3 separate regions of the Homo sapiens genome follow, and regions 1 and 3 are each linked to region 2. The links come from fine-mapping of genetic effects on gene expression. A gene starts in region 2. Each other region holds a variant in brackets. All regions are shown on one strand. Distances are between the middles of the regions. Region 1 overlaps TBC1D22A (TBC1 domain family member 22A). Region 2 holds the start of TBC1D22A (TBC1 domain family member 22A). Region 3 overlaps TBC1D22A (TBC1 domain family member 22A).

The links.
Region 1: its variant is fine-mapped to the expression of TBC1D22A in whole blood (TOPMed, PIP above 0.99).
Region 3: its variant is fine-mapped to the expression of TBC1D22A in lung (TOPMed, PIP above 0.99).

Annotation. Positions count from the first base shown.
Region 1 is chr22:46,970,914-46,978,910 of GRCh38, reverse strand. It overlaps TBC1D22A (TBC1 domain family member 22A), which reads right to left. Exons shown (of 13, transcript NM_014346.5): 9 at 4,512-4,621. Among named protein-coding and RNA genes, the nearest start is that of TBC1D22A-AS1, 59 kb to the right of the region's middle. The variant C/T (reference allele first, on the strand shown) is at 4,666.
Region 2 is chr22:46,758,480-46,766,476 of GRCh38, reverse strand. TBC1D22A (TBC1 domain family member 22A) reads right to left here and starts at 3,827. Exons shown (of 13, transcript NM_014346.5): 1 at 3,629-3,827. The coding sequence starts at 3,690. It overlaps TBC1D22A-DT (TBC1D22A divergent transcript), which reads left to right and starts at 3,949. Exons shown (of 1, transcript NR_186691.1): 1 at 3,949-4,566. RefSeq lists enhancers at 2,110-2,159, 2,180-2,259, 2,300-2,369, 3,300-3,379, 4,080-4,209 and 1 more and a silencer at 3,120-3,179.
Region 3 is chr22:47,170,254-47,178,250 of GRCh38, reverse strand. TBC1D22A (TBC1 domain family member 22A) reads right to left here. Exons shown (of 13, transcript NM_014346.5): 13 at 2,558-4,753. The coding sequence ends at 4,625. Among named protein-coding and RNA genes, the nearest start is that of TBC1D22A-AS1, 260 kb to the right of the region's middle. RefSeq lists enhancers at 1,310-2,400, 6,498-6,997. The variant C/T (reference allele first, on the strand shown) is at 3,350.

The sequences.
Region 1 (7,997 bases), 210 kb before region 2:
CTGGCCGGGCGCGGTGGCTCATACCTGTAATCGCAGCACTTTGGGAGGCTGAGGCGGGCAGATCACTTGAGGTCAGGAGTTTGAGACCAGCCTGGCCAACACAGTGAAACCCTGTCTCTAACAAAAATACAAAAATTACCCGGGCATGGTGGCGTGTGCCTGTAATTCCAGCTACTCGGGAGGCTGAGGCGGAGAATCGCTTGAACCTGGGAGGCGGAGGTTGCAGTGAACTGAGATCGCACCACTGCCCTCCAGCCTGGAGGAGACTTCATCTCCAAAAAACAAACAAACAAACAAACAAAAAACACGCTTCCTTTTCCAACTATGTATCTATGTAATGCTGGATTTTCTTCACATTCTTCAGCTAAAACAAAAAATACCACAACAAATTGAATGTAGAAGTAGATACAAGAATTCTTCTATTAAGTTAGACATTAAGGAGATTTACAAAAATGTAAAACAATGCCTTTCTTCTCACTAAACATTTTTGTTTCGAAAAATAGTAATCTATCATAAAAATGTTACTTATAATAATATGTAATGGGATTTTCATTGTTGTTGTTAAATAAATTACTAAATATTTTTAATTTTCTCTATTTGAATTTCCAACATGGCAGTTATCAAGAGAATTAACCCACACAAACAAAAGCTCTTCAAGCTCTTCAATAATGTTTGTAGTGCAGAGTCCCAAGGCACACAGGCCTGGGCATGTCAATGGCAGAGCCCGTGTCCCTGCTCTGGGCAGCACCTGATCTCCCTGAGCAGGACTGGCTTCTGTGATCACACCTCGCCAGGGCAGGAGAGCCTGCACTCCTAGCCATGAGCTGGCCTGACAATTCCCTCCAGCCAGTGGAGTCAGCGCTGTTCGCTCCTGGAGGACCTCTCTTTGCTGTTAAGGAGTCCCACAATGCGTGTTAAACAATCTTTGGTCAATACCGCTAATACGGTTTGGATCTGTGTCCCCACCCAAATCTCATGTTGAATTGTAATCCCCTGTGCTGGAGGCGTGGCCTGGCTGGAGGTGACCGGATCCTGGGGGCGGTTTCTAATGGGTTAGCACCATCCCTGCTAGCGCTGCGTCGCTGGGTCATGAGATCTGGTTGTTTAAAAGTGTGTGGCACCTCCCCCAACCCCTCCCTCCACCTCCAGCCCTGTACGACACACCAGCTTCCACTTCACTTTCTGCCATAATTGAAAGTTTCCTGAAGCCTCCTCAGCTATGATTCCTGTACAGCTTGTGGAACTGTGAGCTAATTAAACCTCTTTCTCTATAAATTACCCAGTCTCAGGCACTTCTTTAAGCAGTGCGAGAACAGACCAATCACCTAACGTTTCCAGGGATTTGTCGGGAGAAAAGTGGTTTGTTCTTTTTCCTAGTTTGCCATCTTACTGGGGGCTAAGAGCCTCCTCTCCCAGCATTCTGTCCTCGCCTCCATCAGCTGTCCACTCCCCCTGCTCCATCCCACCAGGCTCTGAGCTTCTTGGGGACAGAGGGGTGATGCTGACTCACCCCAAAGTCTTCCGCCTCTCTGAGCACCTGCAGAGAGAAGGCAGGTGCTTCATACATCTCGGCCAAAATGACAAAGTTAACTAATTACTGAAAACAAGTAGAATACGGAATCTCAAATTGAGGCTCCAAAGTGAGCCAAAAACATAGTTATGACCATCCAGGACATCCAAAGGTAAAAAAAATAGATGTGGTTTCTGCCCTCTAGAACTTCCCTGCAAATGGGACTCACTTCTATGTATTTCAGCTAGGAAAGATCCCAGAGCCGTCAACGTGGGTTTTAATACAAGCCACGTCACCTGGGCAATGGGCTTCATCTCTCTTAGTCTCAGCCTTGTGTGCTGGGTGTAACCGAGCTCCAACCTGTCCCGGGAATGCCCACGCCAAGAAGCACCGTCACGGCGAAGACAATGTTAGTTCCTCACATTCATTCCCATGGGGACTGCCTACCAATCACAGAAACTGTGGGGCTAGGAGGCCCTTGAAGACCCTCTTCCTGGTGAGGAAGAGCCCCCAGCACACAGTTCTGGCTCAGCGGCTCCAATAAAGCCTCTGCAGCAACGGCGTGGACGGCTGCCACAGAGCCGATGAACAAACACGCCCTTGAAAGAACGCTGGGAACAACTGGTGGAGGCCGGGCTGAGAGCCTGCACTTCAGAAAACCAAGAGAGAGCTTCCCCAAGGGTTTCAATCAGGGCGATGATGTGGTGAAGAGGGTGCTTAAGGAAGATGGTTCGAGCAGTTCCAAAAGAATGAAATGGAGACAGTAAGACCAAGAGTAGGAAAAGGAGCTAAGAGGCAGAAGCGGCCAGGTCGTCCGGGAGCTGACACGCCGGTCTGCGTGTTGCCGTGGTTTTAAGTGAGTACATAGCCTCATACTTCTCTGAACTTAAAACAGCGGCAGTGCTTGTAAACACTAGTCGCTAGAGGAGCTCTGCTCGGACGGCCTTATCTACAGGAATCACAGCTGAGCTGCCAAGTCCCCTGGATGGTGGGAACTGACATCCCTCAACTCTTGCTCCTGGGAGGATCATGTGGAATCCATCGTGGCACGTGAGAGAAGATCAACGGCTGCCACGGGACGGTGATGTGCTATAAACACACGCGCCAGGAAAGCATGATCCCTCACACTCATCGGCCCTGCCAATAAACCATTGCATCAGACCACAAATCTCAGGTGAAAAATGAAAAAGCCAGCATCGATTTCATTGTACAGCAGATTTTATTTACAAATAGAGGGCAGATAATCTTGTATTTAAATGGCACAAGTCCCATCACTCACCATCAGAGAAGCGACATTTGAAATTTATAAAGTTTTACATTATGATTCAATCCTTTTTCTAAGGGGGCAAAAAGCCGAAAGATCTAGCAGAAAGAATAAAATGTATGAAAATATTAGTAAAGGAGGGGAAATGACAAATTGGTGCTTGGGCCAAAATATATCTCTAGTGGGCACATTTTTCTTTGCAAGGAACAAAGTAAGTCACGAGGAGTCTGGACCAGCCAATAGATACGAGGTTTCCATTCTCCAACCGCACAACAGGCTTCTACTTTCTCCTTTTTCATTCCTACATCATGAAAAGTAACAGCAAAAACCACACGTCTTTCCTCAACGGAACCTTTTAGCTAATATATTCAAATTAAACTTGGAGTCTAAACCTTAGACCACAGGCTATAAAAGCCATATTCTGATGATTCTGAATCAAGTAGATGAGCTGAGACCTCTTCACTTAGTGGTATCAGGAACAACCTTTACCGCAATGGCTCAGGAAAAGCCAAGCCCTGCTAGGCAATGCAGATGTCAAGTGACAACCCCATCTCTGTGTCTCTCAGATGAGGGCCCCCCTTTGAGCTGGGATAACAGGGATGCTGGCAGAACATGCAGACCCTCCCGGGAGGCCCCAGCTCTCAGCAGAGAGCCATCTACATGCGAACACCCGTGATGATCTTGGTGTTTGGTCCCTCAGAAAACGATTACCGACCCAAACCGCGCTCTGGGCTTTGACCCTCCTCTATCTGACAAGTCCTGCTCTGTCAGCAAAATTCACTGTCCCCTGTAATCTACTTCTTCCCACCTTTGGGTCTTTGGGGTCGAGTGCCTTCTGTCCCCTCATGCCATACTCACCCGTCTACCCTCCACCCCGAGTGAGCTTCCGGAGCAGGCCTCACCCTTACTCGCCACTATGCCCGGGTGTGGAGCACAGCACCTCACAGGAAGCGAGTGTCTAGAAAGGATGTACTGGCCTCAAATAAACTAAGACGCCCACACCCACTCCAGGGCCCATCCATCCCCCTCAGCTGTTCCTCTGTAGTATCAGCTGGCTCCAGTCCTCATTCCTGACTCACCTACCAACAAGGTCCTTCCCAGGTACTGTGTGGGAATCTGCCCCTACACCATGCCATAGGATTGGCCGTCACTGGGAGACCTGTGGCTTTTCTACAGAAATCTCAGCCACTAACCCTAGCTGATGCAGAGACCCGCAGGGTCCCCACTGTGGTGCAGGGGACTCCCACCAGCTCGTGTTGCTCTCTGGGAGCAGGCACAGCTGCAGCGCCCCACGCACCTGGAGCCCTGGCCACCAATACTGCAGGCGAGGGCTCACAGCCTGGTGTCAGAGGCCAGGAGCTGTGGCCCCCGATCTGAGGCCCTTTAAGGAGGATCCCTCTTAGCACAGCTAGCCACACACACATAGCTACCGTGAGCCTGTGCCCTATTTGGTGGTGGTGGCTACAGTCTGCAGGCAGCAGGGGATCAGACTCTGCACCTCGCCTTCCCACTGGGCCCTCAGCAGGACACGTGACCGTGCCCAGAACGAGGGGCACATACACTGTGTCTCACCCCTCGTCAACCCGGAGGGGTCTGTGCTATTCCAGATGTAGAAAAGTGAGGCTTCAGGAGGGACTGCATGGCCACACTGAGACTCAGGAGCAGCCTAAGGCCTCAGGCTCTCTTCACCGCAGGGGCTGTGGGCGTGGGCTGTGTCCCGTGGGCGCGGGCGCTCACCTGAATGCCATCCAGCAGCTTGCTCATGCACCAGTAGGTGTCGGCCTCGATGTTGCACAGCACCTCTGCGGGCACGCCGGAGACGTCCACCGTGTCCACCTCCTCTGCCTCTGGGCGGCGCCGAGCATGCAAAAGACAAGGAGACTTAGCCACA[C/T]GGGACCTCGACCCACGAGGGGGCCCACGGAGGAACAGAGCTGAGCCTGCATCCAGCTCCCTCCACCCACTCTCATCAGTCTAGCTAAATGACTCATGCAGCCTTCCACCTCATCACTTAATGCTTCTCAATCTTAACACCTAATTAGTTGCAGATAATTAATATTCTGAATCTTCTCCAATTAATTAACATAATTAATACATTATAAACTATTGCTTCTCAGGCATTTCACATTCTAATAAGAGAGAAAATAGAATATATTACTTAATCCTAACAGATCTGAAAGTTTTTTCCTAAGATTTTGAAAACTCTGCTTCTGATATATTTACATATTCATTTGGCAATAATTCCTCTAAAAACCTCTTTCCAAAGTTAGAGTTTCCAAAACTGCACTGGGTAAATACTTCCATGCTATGATCAAAACCCCAGAAAGCCGTACCACAGATGTGCGTCAAAGATAGAACAGACAATGGCGCTCTAAATAATTTCCTTCTTAAAGTACAAAAAACCGAATGAGAAAACACAATCTAAAAGTTTTTAAAATGCAAAACAGATGCCTAATTGAAATGGCTTATCAGATATTTGAACAAACTAATTTTAGATCCTTACAAAACTGTTGTCATCCAGCAAAATACTCATAAATGTTTTAAAAATTATCTTCCCTATTTTTAATTTTTTTTTACTTTAGTTTTATTTGCATGGCATCTTCGCAAGGAAAACGTTCTTTAAGAAAAGAAACATTTCAACCCAGAATATATGTAGAAAGGTTGAAGCAGATAAACATCACAATCCTGATACGGATGATGCTGCCGCTGGTGTTGACCGGGGTCTGCTGACGCGCCAGGCCCTCTCCTGCGCACTGTGAATGTGCGTGCTCATTTCAGCTGTCACCACTCTGCTGTCACCACCCTTGAGCCCCGGACAACAGCGGGGTAAAGAGGGGCAGGGCCGTGGCTATGCCGAGCAGCCTGGTACACATGGGGAGGGGGGTGCCAGATGCAGCCCCACCTACTGGTCCCAGAACCCAGGTCCCTAAGTGCTCCCTGAGGACCCAGAGGCCCACCTCACATTCGTGTCGTGTACAGTCCTATCCCATCGCGCTGCTTCCCCAGTCGCAGCCCTGCACAATTGCTAACTCACACTGAAGTGTGTGACTGGAAGAGACGAGGTGACACGCCACCTCCCACGGTTCTTGGTTCACCCCAGAACCAGCAGGATAAAAGGGCAAGAGCGCCTCCGTGTCTGACCCTCCAGCAGGAGTGAGCAGCTGGGCGCTCGAGGGCCTGGACAGGGAGGCAACAGCCCTGGACACATCCAACATGGCGGGACCTGCGGGAACGTGGGAGGGTGGGCGGATTCCAGCCAGTTCGCACATCACTCCTCTCTCTGGGGTGCTGGGGGTGGACCCTCAGTCACTCCATGGGTATTGCTTTGATTTGGTTCTGGGTTTTGTAAACGGAGAGATAATTCATCCGCCATAAAATCCACTCTTTAGCGTGTGCGACAGAGTGGTCTTGAGTAGGGTCACAAGCGTCACCGCTAGTTCCAGAGCCTTTGCATCACCACGGAAAGAAACCCTGGACCCTTCAGCAGCCGCTCCCCACTCCCCACCCCACGCCTGGCAACCACGAACCTGCCTCTGTCTCTATGGAGTTGCCTATTCTGGACATTTCACACTGCTGGAATCAGGCTCTGCGGCCCTCTGTGACTGGCTCCTTCTCACTGAGCACAATGTTCTCCAGAGTCATCCATGCGGCAGCCCGTGTCAATGCCTCACTCCTCTTCACGACTGAGCCGCACCCCTACGGCCAGGCCACGCCGCGTCTCTGCATGCCTCGGCTGGTAGACCCTGGGCTGTCTCCACCAAGGGGTAATGTGGACACAGAGAGCCGGTCCCGTGGGCGGGATCTGTCCCTATACACCAGGCACCAGGCACAGACATGAGTGAGAGACCTGACGCCCTCAAGATGCTCATGAATTAAAGGGGAAAACAAGCGACTTTAAAGATTGGAAACATCAATGTTAGGTGTCGGAGTCACCCAGTGGCATGGGGAAATGGATGGGTTCCTCCTGGGACCCGGGCTTGTGAAGGACACCATTGTCCACAGCATACCGGGTGCAACCAGGCCCTCACTCTCTTGGCCCATGTTTTCACCCTAAAAGGCAGGTCCCAGTTCCCCATTCCTCGAATGCGGGGCTAGGATGACAAGTGCTGCTGGCTGGCCATGGCTCTGTCCCCTGACCCTCCTCCCAGCCGGGTGTGCCCATGACACCAGCACTCTCCTGGTGGTTCTGTCCACCCACCGGCTCCCTGCCGGGCTGCAGGCTCTCCCTCCAGCAAGTGGCAAGGTGTCTGGTCTCAAAACTCTGCTGGCGCAGGAGCCCGGGTTGACCTGAGCACACCCTCTGATGAAGCCCCCACAGGGACTCCCAGGGAAAGGCCCTGTCTCCCAATTTCCCACGGCAGCCCAAGGTGGGAGGTGTTATTTCTGCCGGTTCACAGATGCAGAAACTAAGCCTCCACGCGCTGATCAGTGTGCTTTGTGAGGCAATGGTGGGAGTGAGCAGGACAGGCCTGCCTCGACTCCAAGTCCAGCCCCCTCGTAACGCCTTTCCTACTGGAAGGACCGGCAGCAAAAGCCAAGCAAATAGACAGGAGGGTAAGTGGCCTCCCCCTGGCATCACTTCCTCCCTGGGAAAACAGTTTGGGCAGAATCAACTCAACGTTCTGCTGGCCTAGAGTGGGTCTGATTTTATTTCCTCTTCTCAGGGAACTGAATCAGCAGCAATCATCAGCAGGCTTCCTCTGAGAAGTTTCCCATCGACGTATCCTCTTTCAAGGGCCTTCCAAGCATGGAGACATTTCCTCAGAGATAATAAGAGTAAACAGGGAACTAAGGCCTCCCAGACCTTGACAGCCTCTGCCTGAGTGCACAGATGCAGCTGGGCTGTGGCAGCTCCGACTCGCAGAGCCAGGCGCCGCGTGAGCCAGGCAGGAGCCTCGCTCTCTTGGTCTGTTTAGCTGGCTTGTTATTTTATCTGAGGAAATGTCAGTGGCCTATTCTAGGTGTCATTTCTCACAATGGGCCATTTGTTACTCTTCAAGGTAATGAAGTAATGGCATTTAACTCAGAGAGCCCCCGTGGTGATTTGTCTTCTAAACGCCAGGAGAATTGGAATTACCCTTATTGTTAGAATGAGATAAATATCCCCCGCCAGAGAAAGCATCCCCCACTTTGGCAAAGGCACACAGAGTGGCACAGGGCACTCTGGACTCCAGGCTGTGACAGCGGGGTGAGGGCCAGGACAAGCTGCAGAAAATACCCACGGGC
Region 2 (7,997 bases):
GAGTTTCCTTGAGATGAGGGCTGCACTCAAAAACAAAGAGGAAAACAAGGCTGGGTGTGGTGGCTCACGCCTGTAATCCCAGAACTTTGGGAGGCTGAAGCTGGTGGATCACATGATCAGGAGTTCAAGACCAGCCTGGCCAACATGGTGAAACCCCATCTCTACTAAAAATACAAAAATTGCCGGGCACAGTGGCTCAAGCCTGTAATCCCAGCACGTTGGGAGACCGAGGCAGGAGGATCACAAGGTCAGGAGATCGAGACTATCCTGGCTAGCACGGTGAAACCCCGTCTCTACCAAAAATATAAAAAATTAGCCAGGTGTGGTGGCAGGCGCCTGTAGTCCCAGCTACTCGGGAGGCTGAGGCAGGAAAATGGCGTGAACCCGGGAGGCGGAGCTTGCAGTGAGCCGAGATCGCACCACTGCACTCCAGCCTGGACAACAGAGTGAGACTCCGTCTCAAAAAAAATACACACACACACACACACACACACACACACACACACACACACACACACATAAATTAGCTGGGCGTGGTGGCCAGTGCCTATAATCCCATCTACTCAGGAGGCTGAGGCAGGAGAACTGCTTCAACCGGGACCCAGGAGGTGGAGGTAGCAGTGAGCTGAGATCATGCCACTGCACTCCAGCCTGGACTACAGAGAGAGACTCTTGTCTCAGAAAAAAAAAAAAAAAAAGGAGGAAAACAAGGCCAGGCATGGAGGCTCACGCCTATAATCCCAGCACTTTGGGAGGCTGAGGTGGATGGATCACCTGAGGTCAGGAGTTCGAGACTAGCCTGGCCGACATGGCGAAACCCCATCTCTACTAAAAATACAAAAAAACAGACAGGCGTGCTGGTGGGCGCCTGTAATCCCAGCTACTTGGGAGGCTGAGACAGGAGAATCACTTGAACCTGGGAGGCAGAGGTTGCAGTGAGCCAAGATCACACCACTGCACTCCAGCCTGGGCAACACAGTGAGACTCCATCTCAAAAAAAACAAAAACAAAAACAAAAACAAAAAAAGAAAGAAAACAATCATGGGAAACAATTGAAAGAGCTGCCAAAGCCACAGGAACCTGGCTAGGATCTCCACTAGCACTGTGCTTGCATAGGTGTGGACTAAATAAATACGCAGCTAGTGACCAATCACCACTACTGATAGGAAAACGGGCACCCCTCTGTGACTCCTCCTTCAGGGAAGAGTTCCAGCCTGCCACCTGAAAGAGCAGCACTGCCAGAGGCTTGAGCCACAAGACGGATGGGAGACACAGAGGCTTCACAGGCCTTCCTGGTGCACCCAACCTCTCCTTCTTCTTCTGCCCTCTTCAGTGACAGCCTCGAACTCTCCAAGACTCCAACTTCACAAAGGTAATACAGAAGCTGCTCTCAAAAGTGCCTAAGACACAGAATAGCATCAAAGTCAGAGGAAAAGGAAAGCTGGTGTTCGGTATTTCAGGTTCACACAGAAGAAAGCTGGAGACTGTATTAGTCTCCTGTGGCTGCCATAACAAATTACCACCAACTGAATGGCTTAACACAACAGACACTTATTCTCTCTCAGTTTTAAACGCCAAAAACCCAAAATCAAGTGGTCATCTGCAGGGCCATGCTCTCTGTCAAGTCTCTAGGTGAGCATCCTTCCTTGCCTCTTCTAGCTTCTGGTGGCTGCCAGCAACCCCTGGCTTTCCTTGGCTTGTAAATGTACTATTCCAATCTCTGTTTCTGTCTCCATAGGGCCATTTCCCTGTGTGTGTCTCTCTGTATTCAAATTTCCCTCTTTTTATAAAAATACTAGTTGACGAACTAAGGCCCACCCTCATCCAGTATGACCTCATTTTACCTTGATTACTTGTGCAAAAACCCTATTTCCAAATGTCACATCCATAGTTTCCAGATGGACATAAATTCAACTCAGTATAAGGACAAATTACCAAGAGCCACAGCCTTCAATCCAAAGGTTGAGTCACTGCTGTAACTCCACACAGCAGCTCTGTTATTCTTACATCTAAGCTGATTAAGAATTAGAGTTTAGACTGATGAGGAACCAAAACCTTAAGACCTAAAAGTAACACATAAAAGTTACACTGTCATGTGGCTCCTCTTCCCTGGACTCTTATGTTCTACAGCATTTGTTCCTGTCACTACCAGGACCTCCTACCCACCACCATTCCAGAATCTTCACTCACCTTGGACCCTGACACTGGTTTTGTTGAAAGGTCTTACTGTTCTCGAATCAAGCACGGTCCTGTGGAGTCGAATAGGGTCTCCGGCCACCTTTGATGACTCCCTTCATTCTCAAAGCCACTGTCTGAGCTGTCAGTAACTCACGCTGCTAACCCCCAGATCACTCTTAAAAGTAAACTTTCCTTTTTTTTTTTGAGACAGAGTTTCGCTCTTATTGCCCAGGATGGAGTGCAATGGAACGATCTCGGCTCACTGCAACCTCCACCTCCCAGGTTCAAGTGATTCTCCTGCCTCAGCCTCCCAAGTAGCCAGGATTACAGGCATGTGCCACCATGCCCAGCTAATTTTGTATTTTTAGTAGAGACTAGGTTTCTCCATGTTGGTGAGGCTGGTCTCAAACTCCTGACCTCAGGTGATCTGTCCACCTCGACCTCCCAAAGTGCTGGGATTACAGGCGTGAGCCGCCACACCTGGCCAAAAGTAAACTTTTCTAACTGGATGCAGTAAATTCCAAAGTTTATCATTCAAACACTCAAACAATAATATTTATTATGAAACAGGAGTACAAACCATTTTACTGTGTTTATGAATGATTCTACTCAGACTTATCTTCGTAACACAATTCATAATTTTCAGCATTCCAGACTTCAGCTTTGGAACAGAACTATGTTCTGAAATCTTGACGTTTGCTTATCTCTGATCTGTTTTCACCAGTGGCTGATTTTATCCTAGGTACCCTCCACGTAATGTCTCATTCCCTAGGGCCCTGGCATAGCTCAGCGCCACAGCAATCAGACAAGGACTCTGGAGCTCTGGAGCTGTATAGCATCTAGGGTGTACCCAGGTCATTCCAGCCGAAGAAAAAAAAAAAAAAAAAAAAAAAAAAAAAAAAAACTTCCTGCTAACACAACATAGGAGGTGGTTTTGACACCAGCAAGCAGAAACATGGAAACTCACAGGGAAACTCTAGTCCTCTTCTATGCTCAAGGCAAGAGCCGCAGCCCTCAAGAGACCACAGGCAAATCAAGTGGGTCAAAAACACCACACCCCCTGCAGAAACTGATCCACCCAGCAGACGGGGGGCCTCAGCCCGGCCAGCTTCCGGACTCCACCAAACTTCACAGCATGACCCGAATCAGTTCCTTCCAGCCTCCCCAAGGAGCCCAGGAGTTTCTCGGAAAGAAGCCTGCCAGTGTCAGGAAAAACGCCAATAGCTCCTCCTCGTCCTTGCAAGCCTCGATCCTACGTGCAGCCACTGTCACCCCCAGACCCCACGCTCCGACCTCCGAGCCCCCCAACGCCCGTCACACCATCCAGCAGTCTCCTCAGAGTCCAAGTTGCCCTCTCCAGACCCCCGACTCCACCCGCAGCCCAGGAGGCCAACGCGGCCACCTGACCTCTGACCCCTGACCCCGACCTGGCCCTCCGCGGCACACCCACCTGCCCGGGAGCTTGCTGTTGCTGCGCTTCCAGAATTGCTTCCTGGCCCCGTCGCTGGCCATGGCCCCTCCTCATCCCTCAGACCCGCGGCCCAGACACCCCGAGTGCACCCGGCCCTCCCCTAGCGGCCCTTTCCTGTGCCCCGGGTGGCCCCTCACTGCTCCCGGGACTCCAGAGCCTAGAGCCGAGAAGCTCTTCCGCCTCCTTCCGGAAGTTGTGCCTACGCGCGCCCGGAAGTCCCGCCTAAGTCCCTGGTGGCGAGTGACGCAGCACTCCGAGCGCCCGTCGTTATTAAAGGGCGACGCCGCGCAACGCACGTTACACGCATCGCGGAGGGAGCGGAGGTGGTTGGGTTTCTGAGTTTGAGTCTGTCGCTCCTGGCTCTCCCGACACAACAGCGGCGCCCACCTGCCCGCAACGGACTCCCAGGAGCCTCGAGCTCCTCATTTCCAAAGCTGAACTGCCCCGTGTCTGATTCCGATTTCTCTTGAGCGCGTTTCGGAGCCGGCCCAGAACAGAGGGAAGCCAGACACACCATACCCGGCCCAACAGTGGCAGGGCGGCTGCGGGTGCTGGTCAAGCTGGGTCACCCGGCACTGAGTGACGATCAGCAAATACTCAGTGGACGAAATATTTGCAGTGCAGTGAGGTGAGGGGCATAACCGCGGAGCGTATTCGAAGAGATGAGAGAGACTGGGGATTAGGCCAGGCTTGAAGGGAAGAATGGTTTGAGCACCGAGGACAAGAATTAATTCCCCAGGCCTGGGTTCCAGCCTTGTGCGGCTATCACGTGCTTGAAACCTGGCTAGTCCGGAGTGAGATGCGCTTTACGTGTAAAATACAGGATTCCAAAGACGTCGTATAAAATAATTTGTATATTGTTTGCATGTTAGGTAACATTTTTAATGTATTGGATTAAATAAAATGCATTAAAATTATTTTTACATTCCTTTTACTCTTTTTAAAATTATTTTTACCTTTTTTATTCTTTTTTTCCGGGGGGGACTGGGGGTGGGTGTCTTGCTATGTTGCCCAGGCTAGTCTCGAACTCCTGCCCTCTAGTGATCCTCCTGCCTCACCCTCCCCAGTAGTTGGAACTGCAGGTGCACACGTTATGACTAGATCTTTTTACTGTGTGTGTGTGTGTGTGTGTGTGTGTGTGCAGAAAATCACTAAAAAAACCGTGTCTGGTTTGCATTACATTTCTGTGCTTCTTAGACCAAAGATTGAATGCTCAGGGACTGTCATTTCAGACTGGAGCTTTAGTGTATTTGGAGCTCCTGCCAGTTCTCTTTTAAAACAAAAATCTAAGACATATTTTCTGATTAAGAATTTCCCTGGAGGCTGAGGCAGGAGAATAGCGTGAACCCGTGAGGCAGAGCTTGCAGTGAGCCCAGATCGTGCCACTGCACTCCAGGCTGGGCGACAGAGCGAAACTCCGTCTCAAAAATAATAACAATTTCCCATGCCTCTTCATTTACTGGTAAGTAACATTGACTTAGTACTTACTATGTGCAAGGCGTCCTACTCTCCTAGAATCCTCTCCTAGTAGGGCTCAGAAGGCCCCAGGGGTCTCCTCCTGACAGAGCCCTGACAGCCTCAGACAGTGAGGTCCCCTACAGACAACACTGAGGACCATGGCGGTTCTTTCCAGCTCAGTCTGGCTTATTGCAAGAACCAGTGAGCGAGGTGACAGCAGGATTAACCTGATGGAAGGGGAAAGGAAGGAAGAACTGAAACAATTGACAGAGGAAAAACTGGCAGCACTTAGTGACTGGTTACACCTTAGATCCGGGTGCTTTTTATAGCTTACCGTATACTTTGCTAGCTACTGTTTTCAGGCGAAGGAGTGAGGCTGAGATTGACTTGAAGGCTTCAAAACCAGCTAAGCAAAGGATTACTAGGATCACAACAGAAACGTGAAGATGGAAAAAGAAAGTCTGAGTAGAAGGCCAGTTTTGAAAGCCAAAGTAATACAGATGTTGGAGTCTACATATGGGACCTAGGAATTGGGACAGATTCTCAAATCCCAGAGGTATGGAATGGAACATTTTTTATTCATTTTTGCAACAAGTATTGAGCAGCAATGCAAATTAAAACTAAGGACATACCATGTTACACTTAACAGATTGGCAAAAACTTAAAAACCTGTCTTTACCAAACTTAATAAGGATGTGGATTTGTGAGCAGAGCAGAACTCTCTTGCACTGCCAGTAGGAGTGTACGTTCATTCACTAACTTTGGATGGCCACTTAGCAATTTCTAGCAAAGATACTCTATAACTTAGCAATTCCACTCTTGGTATGTGCTCTAGAGTACCTTGCCTATGCGTGCAAACACAAGAATGTTCAGTGCAACGTTGCTTCTAGTGGTAGTTGGGGTCTGGGGGAGAAGCAACCAAAATGCCATCTATGGCAGAATCGATAATCTACACAGTTATGCAGTAGAATACCATAAGTTAGTAAAAATGAATACATTAGTTGCATACATCAACATAAATGAATTTTGCAAACTGTGGGGTTGTTTTTGAAATGGGGCTTACTATGTTCCCCCGGCTGGCCACAAAATCCTGGGCTCAAGTGATCCACCTCAGCCTCCTGAGTAGCTGAGTACAGATGCAAGCACTACCGCACCTGACTCCACAGTGTTGAATGAGAAAAAGTTGAATATTAATTCACATGGTATGATACCATTTAGTACTATTTTCTTTTAAAGGATGAGAATGCGACCAGGTATGGTGGCTCATGCCTGTAATCGCAGCACTTTAGGAGGCTGAGGCAGGAGGATCCCTTGAGCCCAGGAGTTTGAGGCTGCAGCAAGCTGTGATCATGTCACTGCACTCCAGCCTTGGCGATAGTGCCAAACCCTATCTCAAAAAAAAAAAAAAAAAACCAGAATGGTAAAAGATAAATTCAGGAGGGTGGTTGCCTATAGGTACAGGTGGGGACTGTGAACAGGAAGGAATTCATTCATAGCGGATCAATTGTGCTATTATGCTTTGTTTCCTAAGGCAGATGGGCTATATTCAGGTGTTGGTTATATTCTTTATGAGTTTTTACATGTATAAAATGTTTCATAATACATTAAAATATAGTTATTGAGTTTGAACTGTGCTATGCACTGAGCTACATTGAACTACATGATAAGGCAAACAAAAGTGCAGCAGGCCAGGCACAGTGGCTCACACCTATAATACCAGTACTTTGGGAGGCTGAGGCGAGAGGATCACTTGAGACCAGGAGATCAACACTAGCCTGGGCAACATAGGGAGACCCCATCTCTGTGAAACTTTTTTTTTTTTCTTTTAGCCAGTCATGGTGGTAAACACTCTTAGTCCTAGCTACTTAGGAGACTGAGGCAGGAGGATCACTTGAGCCCAGAAGTTCAAGGCAGCAGTGAGCTAGGATCACACAACTGCACTCCAGCCTAGAAAACAGTGAGACCCTGCCTCAAAAAAACAAACAAAAAAAAATTGGGATAGTATTTCAGGATGGCTGGATTTGCAATGCCATTTGGGTTCCTCGGGAAGTGTTTTCTGCTTTCTTTGCTTTCAGATGGCCTGCTCCGGGCTTAGAATATCTCTCACAGGACCTTACTGAGTGAGCTGCCACACTCCCACTTGGTGGGTTCTGCCTCCTAAGTTTCCTGGTGCTGTACCGTCCATAGGCACCGAGCCTGTGCCCCAAAGTAAAAAGCTGACTGTTCTATCTGTATTGGTTTCCTAAGGCTGCTGTTGGCAGAATGCTGCAGACTTAGCGGCTGAAAACAATACACATTTACCCTCCTACAATCCTGGAGGTCAGAAGTCCAAAGTCTTAGCACTTCACTGCACTAAACTCAAAGCGTCAGCAAGGCTGCCCCCTTCTGGAGGTTCTAGGGGAGAGTCAGTTTCTTACCTTTTTCAGCTTCTAGAGGCCACTTAACATTCCTTGGCCGACACTCCTTCCTCTGTCTGGAAAGCAGATCACTCTAATCTCTACTGCCATCATCACATCATCTTCTCTCCTTCCGATTCCTCCTAGATCCCTCTGACCTCACGTCAGGCCCACTGGATAATCCGGTCCAGGCTGATCTCCCCATCACCCGGCCCTTAGCTCAATCACACCTGCAAACTCCCTTTGGCCATTTAAGGTAACATTTGCAGGTCCCAGGATTAAGTCCTGGTATATCTTCAGGGGTTCATTATTCAGCCTACCACAATAATAGACGGCATATAGCAAAGGTCCCCAGTTTCACACCGCGAGAGGCAGGCGTCGTCTTCACTGCCCCCTTCCCCAACTCCTTTCAGCCATTTTTATATTACAGGGACTAGCAACGTGCCATTTCCTGACACTAAGTCAGGATGAGTTAGGGTGCTGTTGGTTGCAAG
Region 3 (7,997 bases), 410 kb before region 2:
CTAAGAAAGCCTTTTACCATTCCCAATGATAAAAATAGCCATGTATTTTTGAGTATTTGGGGGTAATTTTTATATTTACATCCACTTATCTGGAAGTTGAATATAATTTTTTTTCCTAAAAGAATAATCAGGCCGGGCGCGATGGCTCACACCTATAATCCCAGCACTTTGGGAGGTCGAGGTGGGCAGATCAGTTGAGGTCAGGAGTTCGAGACCAGCCTGGACAACATGGTGAAACCCCGTCTCTACTAAAACTACTAAAAAAATTAGCTGCGTGTCATGGCGGGCACCTGTCATCCCAGCTGCTCGGGAGGCTGAGGCATTAGAATCACTTGAACCCAGGAGGCAGAGGTTGCAGTGAGCTGAGATCACACCACTGCACTCCAGCCTGGGCCACAGAGCAAGACCCTGTCTCAAGAAATAAAAAAATAAAAAAAGAAAGAATAGCCAGCCTCATCTTGTCAACAAAATGGACTACGGCTGGGTCACTCACACAGGACCATGTAAGCGGCCGTGTGCCTCCTGGGTGGAGGCCATCCTGTGCTGGGGACCCTCCATGCCAAGGAGCTGCAGGGTGGGTGTGGAAAGGCCTCACAGCTGAGTGGGGGCCACCCCAAGCAGCCCGCAATCCCGCAGGGCAAAGTGCAGAGCCAGAAGGAAGCCAAGGGGCTGGGGCTGAGAGAGGAGAGGAACGGTGGGGTGGACTGGGGCTGGGAAGGCCCCAGGGAGGTCCACACCCCGAGGGGTCTGAGTCTTGGGCAAACTCCCCAGGACTGCGGCCGAGAGCAGATCACTGGGGCCACAGGGCTGACGAGGAGCCTCCAGCTCTGGAGGACGGCGGCATGGAGGCTGGCATGCTGCAGCCTGCGATGGCGCGTGTCATTCTGCAGCCTGTCCCCAAGTCCTCAGCGGAGTGGGTCTGCTTGAACACAGACAGTATTCCTCCTGTTTCCATCCATCGGTGACACGGCACAGAAGCGTCCCACCTCCTAGTTCTTCCAAAAGTACAAACCACAGAGACTCTCCATCTCCTACTCCCCAGGACCCCAATGCTCCCCGACGCGTCTGACCTTGCCAAGGGCACAGCAGTGGTGCCAGCAGGCCGAGCCTCTCCCTGGGACCGGGCAGGGTGAGGTGCACAGGACAGCAGCCACCACAGGTCAGGGATTGATTTCAGGACCCCTGGGCTCGGGCCACCCACAGGAGCAGAGTCTGCACAGGCTGTGAAGACCTCAAGTTGGGCCCGAGGAGCCAACTGCTGAGCTGCAAACTCCGGGGAATCGTGAAGGTGAATGGCAGTTGCTGGGCTGTGACCTGGAGTCAGGAGCTGAACACCTGGTGGCTGCTGGGGACAGCCGATCTCCGTCCTGCAGCCTACGACCCTGCAGACCACAGCCAGGCAACAGTGAGGTCAGCCCATGTGCCGGGCCACCGGGCCCAGGAAGGCAGCCCTGCCTGGCTCAGCTCCGCACTGGGTCACTGTGGAAAGAGAGGTGAAGAGGCTACTCCCACTTTGTGGAGCCACCAGCCCACCCGTGGGGACAGGAGCACACCCCACACCTACGGGGACAGGAGCACACCCCACACCTGGTCAGTAGTGCGCACCCCACACCCGTGGGGACAGGAGCACACCCCACACCCGTGGGGACTGGAGCACACCCCACAGCCGGTCAGTAGTGCACACCCCACACCCGCGGGGACAGGAGCACACCCCACACCCGCGGGGACAGGGGCACACCCCACACCCGCGGGGACAGGGGCACACCCCACACCCGCGGGGACAGGGGCACACCCCACACCCGCGGGGACAGGGGCACACCCCACACCCGCGGGGACAGGGGCACACCCCACACCCGCGGGGACAGGGGCACACCCCACACCCGCGGGGACAGGAGCACACCCCACACCCGTCAGCGGACAGCACAAGGCAGTGGAAAGCCAAGTGCTGCCAAGGGAGGGTCCCGAGGGTGGGGCACCCAGGGGGGTGTGGGGTACCTGAGGGTGGGGCACCCAGACGGGGTTACTCAGAGGGGTGTGGCGCACCTGGAAAGCTGCCCTGAGAAACTGAGGCCCTTTGAAGGGCCTTGCTTCAGTAACACAGGGCAAGGAGGGTGTTTCAGTGTGTGGGTGAGGGTGAGGCAAGTGTATCCCAGGAGAGGCGGGGGGGACCCCAGACCCTGGTGCCTACCCCGGAACAGCCCTTTTCAAAGCAGGTGCTTGACAGATGTGGCCCAAGGGGAGGTCCCTTGTTCAGGAGCCTGACAGGGGCCAGCCTGGACCCCACACTCCCGTGTTCCAGCTAGTGCAGAGCCGGGCTTCGGGGGTCAGACTGGTTTCTGAGTCTTGCCCCGCCCGGGCAAGTGGCATCCCTGCACCACCTGAGCAGCTGCAGCCCCATCTCCCTGAGAGGTCCTGCGGGGGGCAGCGAGATCACGGGTGCTGCCGGGCCCACGCTGGTGCGCCGCAATGGCCCTGAGCTCAGACCCTCGGCAGGGCTGGGCCAGGGTGCCCCTGTCCTCGATGGGCAAGTCCTCGAATCACAGGCCAAGGCCGCGGCTTTGTCACTGATCTTTATTCCGTGTTTTTAGCGCACCACATCCAGACAGCACACCCCGAACATTCCAGATGGATCTGCTCAGACTTAAGGCCCGCGGCCAACACCTCTCACATTCAGTCTTGGCGTTTACATACATGAGGAAATGCACACAGGGCTGAACTCCGTGGAGCTTCCTGTTTAAAACATCAACCACCTCGAGAAGCAGGTCAGTTGTGTCCGCAGCCTTCTGGCCACACGGCATGATCTGAGCTGGAGAAGGGGATCCTCCCAGGGCTGATCTCGGCAAAGCGACATGGGGCTTCCTGCACACGGCCGAGGGGCGGCTCTTCTTGTGACGGAATCCCCTCCCCATCTAGAAAAGGAGGCGGCAGGAGGAGGAGGCATGGCTGGTCTGAGGAACCCTTGACCCTGGGGTGGGGACACGGAAGGCAGGGGTAAGGCGTGCCCGCATCTGATGTGAAGCAAGCCCATCCCTTTGCTGGTTTGGGAGCATCTGACGTTTGCACAGCATTTTGTGCTAATTTCCATGCTGTGTGTAATGACCCTGGATTTTTAAAACAGAAGCAGAAACACACACATCACTTATGCCTGTATGTCCCACAGTCTCTGGCAGTGTCCTAGGGCCTGGGAGAGGACACGGCTGCTCCTGAGGGACAGAGGAGAGTCTGGGAAGTCAGTCACCAGTGGGTCGCTGAGGACGTGAGCCTGTCCTGGGCTCAGGGATCAGACAGACTGTGGCTGTGGCCCTGCCCGCATTCCAGGGGTCATGCAGCCTGTGACACACCGAGGGAA[C/T]GCTGGGAAGCCAGTCCCAAGGCCCCTGGAGCCAAGGACACAGCCCTAGCAGGGCGCTGGGCAGGGACCAGCTCTGGGCCCTTCCGCACTTAGAGCCCCAAGGAACCAGTCCACAGCGGGAACCAGTCCAGGGCAGAACCAGTATACAGCGGGAACTGGTCCACGGCGGGAACCAGTCCACGGCAGAACCGGTCCAGGGCAGGAGTGGTCCAGGGCAGGAGTGGTCCATGGCGGAACCGGTCCATGGCGGAACCGGTCCACGGAGGAACCGGTCCATGGAGGAACCGGTCCATGATGGAACCAGTCACACCTCCCCTACACCTGGCAGACCTGGACAAGGACAGCAAGTCCCAGGAAGTCTCCAAAAGCTCATTCCGCTTCCAGGCTGCGGTGAGAAGAGCACTGTGGTTCAGGGCTTTGATGACAGGGACGCGACCCCCTGCCCGTCTGCCAGCCCAACATGGCCCGACAGCCTGGGTGGGCCTCCAGGGGCTCTGGCTGAGGCCGGCGCCTACCTGCGTGGCGGGGCCACTTGGCCCTGGACCTCAGGGAGGTGGGGGTTTCTCTCTTGTAAAAGAGGTTCAAGGTGGAAAGTAAGGCGATGGCGAGGCCTCCCTCTGCTCCCAGCCTTTGGTCCCACGGCCTCCCAGGCACTCGGCGGGCTCACGGCTTGGACTCCAGCCTTCAGCTTCCCAGCCACGTTTAAACCAAGCAAGCAGGAAAACACACGGAGGGAAAGGGCCAGCAGCAGTGAAATACAGCTGTGAGGGGACCTCGCGGCACAGAGACCCCGGGTCAGCGCAACGTCTCGGTCTAGATTTTGTCTACATTTTATTCTTTCACTCAACAGAATAGAAGTTTTGCATTTCAGAGTAGGTATGAGATGGCCACTACCTCGTTCCGGCCCTGGCACCCAGACAGCAGGACTCCAAAGAGGGTCGGCCTCCTAGGCTGCCCCGGACTAGGGGCAGCACGAGGCAGTCATTTGGCAAGGACATTGCAGGGAGAGGGAGAGGGGACCCCTGACCTGCCTCTGGCCGCCGAACCCGGGGCCCTCCCCTGGCTCTCTTTGGTATCTCAGAAAACAAAGGCTGTCCCTGTCTTTGTCAGCCCTAGACCAGGTCTGTGGCCCATCTTCACCAGCTCCCCTGGAGGGTGGGGCCACCTCACAAGGCCTTTTAGCAGCCCGGGACCAGCTCACAGGGGCCTACCACCAGCCAGGCAGGTGGGGCGCGCCACCCGGGACAGTGAGGCCAGCTGCGGGTGGGCCTGGGCTCATTTCTTGTAGTGATTGGGGGCGTCGGCAAAAGCAAACTTGAGGCGGTAGGCCTCGGCCAGCAACAGGCTGATGTCCTCATCATCCCAGTGGGCTGTGGGCAGGTTCTGGAGGAAGAGCAGCAGCTCCTGGGGAGAAAGAGACAAGCCCAGGTCAGAGGAGGTGACCCACGGTGGAGGGCGGGTGACCCCAGAAAACTGGAGGGAAAGATACAAGCCCAGGTCAGAGGAGGTGACCCACGGTGCAGGGCGGGTGATCCAGGAAAACTGGAGAGAAAGACACAAGCCCAGGTCAGAGGAGGTGACCCACAGTGGAGGGTGGGTGACCCAGGAAAACTTGCCCAGCCGGCAGCTGCTCCCTGCTCAACCCCAGAAGGGCCCCAGGCCTCGCCCCACGGCCACCGCCCCATCCCAGCAGCCAGGCAGGAGGCCCACTGCGCAGCTCCAAGTCCGGCATCTGAGATGTCGTGGCAGGGGCCGCCCAGAGCTTCATTTAACTGAATCCCCTGCCCCTCAGGGGGAGACCCAGCTCTCGGGGCCCTGCTGCAGCTTTGCAGCCTCCGCCCAGGAGCTTCCCACTCCCACAAAGCCTGTATCAGCCCAGGAAGTACCGCAGCACCCCTGGAACTGCCACTAAGCACAGATTTCTGTGCACCAGGAGACCCCTCCGGGCACCAGCACCATCAGCAGATGAAGCCCACACGAGGGGATCACAGAACGGAGCCGGCTCAGGCCCACCCCGGGAGCCCAGGAGCACAGCAAAGCGCCAACTGGCCCCTCCTGCATGACCACCTCACACCAGTGGGTTGGGGTGCAGGGCTCCACCAAACCCAGCTTCAGGTCTAGGTCCAACCTGGTGCCCTGGAACAATGACTCCACCCCGAGGCCCAGCTTCCTCCTCTGCAAAATGGGGCCACCATTTATTTATTTATTGCTTTCTAATGTGCTTATTTGCCTTAGACTGAGATTTAAAAATTAATTCCAGTTACAACCAAAGAAGGCCTTTCTGTGGAAGTGACATTTGATCAGACTCTTAAAATTCAGGTAGGATTCTCATAGGTAAAGATAGGAGGTAAAAGGTTTTACATAAAGGTGAATGACATGCATGTAAGTAGGAAAATAGGGAACTATAGGGAATAAGCAACAATTATAAGTCGTTCAGTGTGGATAAAATCATCTTACATGTGTATTTTTAAAATCTCGCCTCCTGTACCCTTCATTCTCCCATTCTACTTCCCAGTCACAGCATTTATTGCATTGAATTCACATAGTACAAATTTTTATTTACTGTAGTAAATTACTGTCAGGGCTGCTGGACAGACTGGGAAAACACACATACGGCCAGCAGTACAGCCAGCACTGGGTGGGCACACAGTGGGCTCCATGGGCATGCTAGGTAGACACACCAGGCTCACTGAGCGGGCACACTGGGTGGACACACAAGGCTCACTGGGCATGCTGGGTGGGAACACCGGGCGGGCACACCGGACTCACTGGGCTCACTGGGCACTCTGGGTGAGCACACAGCTCACTGGGAGTGCTGGGTAGGCTCACTGGGAGTGCTGGGTAGGCTCACTGGGAGTGCTGGGTAGGCTCACTGGGAGTGCTGGGTAGGCACACTGGGCTCACCGGGCGCACTGGGCAGGTGCGTTGGGCTTACTGGGAGTGCTGGGTGGGCTCCTCTGGCCTGCAGCTGGGCCGTGTCTCAGATGGGCTATGGGGGCACTGAGTCCCACCCCCAAAAGACACATGGGCGACTGTCTCCAGAGCTCATGGTCTGGAGGCCGGGATGCGGACACTGAGGAGATGGAGACTGACCTACGTCCACTGAGGCCACAACGGGGAAGGAAAAGCACAGGTCCTCGGGGGACCCCCCACGACCACCGCCTGACAGCCCCGCCCTCCCACATGACCACGCCCACATCCACAGCTGCTGGCAGCCCACCAAGGGCAGGGCAGGTCTCCGGGGACCCCAACACACAGAGGGCTTGGCAGAAGTAGGGATCAGAGAGGGCTGAGTGGCCAAGACAGCCTCCTGCAGTGGGGGTTCTCAGAAGAGAAACAGGGGACCATCAGGTCAGGGCCAGCCCAAGCCCAGGCTCTGTCATGAAGCTGGGCAGACTCCCTGAGGGAGGGGTCTACACTGCTCAGATGGCCCTGTGGGCTCTGGTCCTCGAGAATTTGCCCCCAGGGGGCCACCTGCAGGCTCCCCGGCTTCTCCTACCTCCCACCCCAAACAGAAGCTGGATCCAGGAAGTCAGGAAGGCGGCTGAGGAGCCCTCAGGGTGCTGGAACTGCCCTTCCCCACTCCTAGCAGGTGACAAGGGACAGGGAGGGCCACAGGCTCGGGATGCCCATGTCGCCTGCCTCGAGAAAACGCAGCCCAGCAAGACTGGCATGGAGGGGAATGGGGGGTAGCTGGGCTCTGAAGTTCACATCCTGTCTTCCTGTCCAGGTGGTCTTGGGCAGTGGGCCTGGCTCTCCAAGCCACACTCTTCTTCATCTGGAGATAAGGATGGCAGGCTCTCCACATAGGCACAGCCAGGATGAGCTGAGCTGTGCAGGCACAGAGCCTGGACAGATGACCTGGGCTCACATCCTGGCTGTGCCGGAGGCTGCCGTCTGCATGTTGCCCCACCCTCACTGAGGCAGGCCCCCCGGCCATCCCGGAGCTGCGCTCTCCATTTCCGAATCAGGAAGATTACACACCAGGACTGCCCTCTCTCCGGTCCTGCATCAGGAGGGTTACACACCAGGACTGTCCTCTCTCCGGTCCTGCATCAGGAGGGTTACACACCAGGACTGCCCTCTCTCCGGTCCTGCATCAGGAGGGTTACACACCAGGACTGTCCTCTCTCCGGTCCTGCATCAGGAGGGTTACACACCAGGACTGTCCTCTCTCCGGTCCTGCATCAGGAGGGTTACACACCAGGACTGTCCTCTCTCTGGTCCTGCATCAGGAGGGTTACACACCAGGACTGTCCTCTCTCCGGTCCTGCATCAGGAGGGTTACACACCAGGACCGTCTTCCAATTGCTATTTCGCAGTTGCTGGGCTTCCACCCCCACTTCCTCAATTCCATTTCCTTTCGCATTTTGGATACTTTCAGTGGGCCTTTAAATTGAATTCAGGGAGCGAATTTCACTGGCTAAAAGTCCCTGGGGACATATCAACATCAATCTGCTGTCTTTCACCATTAGATGCAACTTACATGGATGCCAATCCAATTCTGAGCAGGTCATAAATAAATACCTTTGGTTTTATTTTTAATCCACTTCGCTTCATATTATCATGACCTCGCTCCTTGCAAGGTGAGAAGCAGTACCCTCCCATTACGGTAACTCACCGACTCTACTGCACACTCAATTTCAGA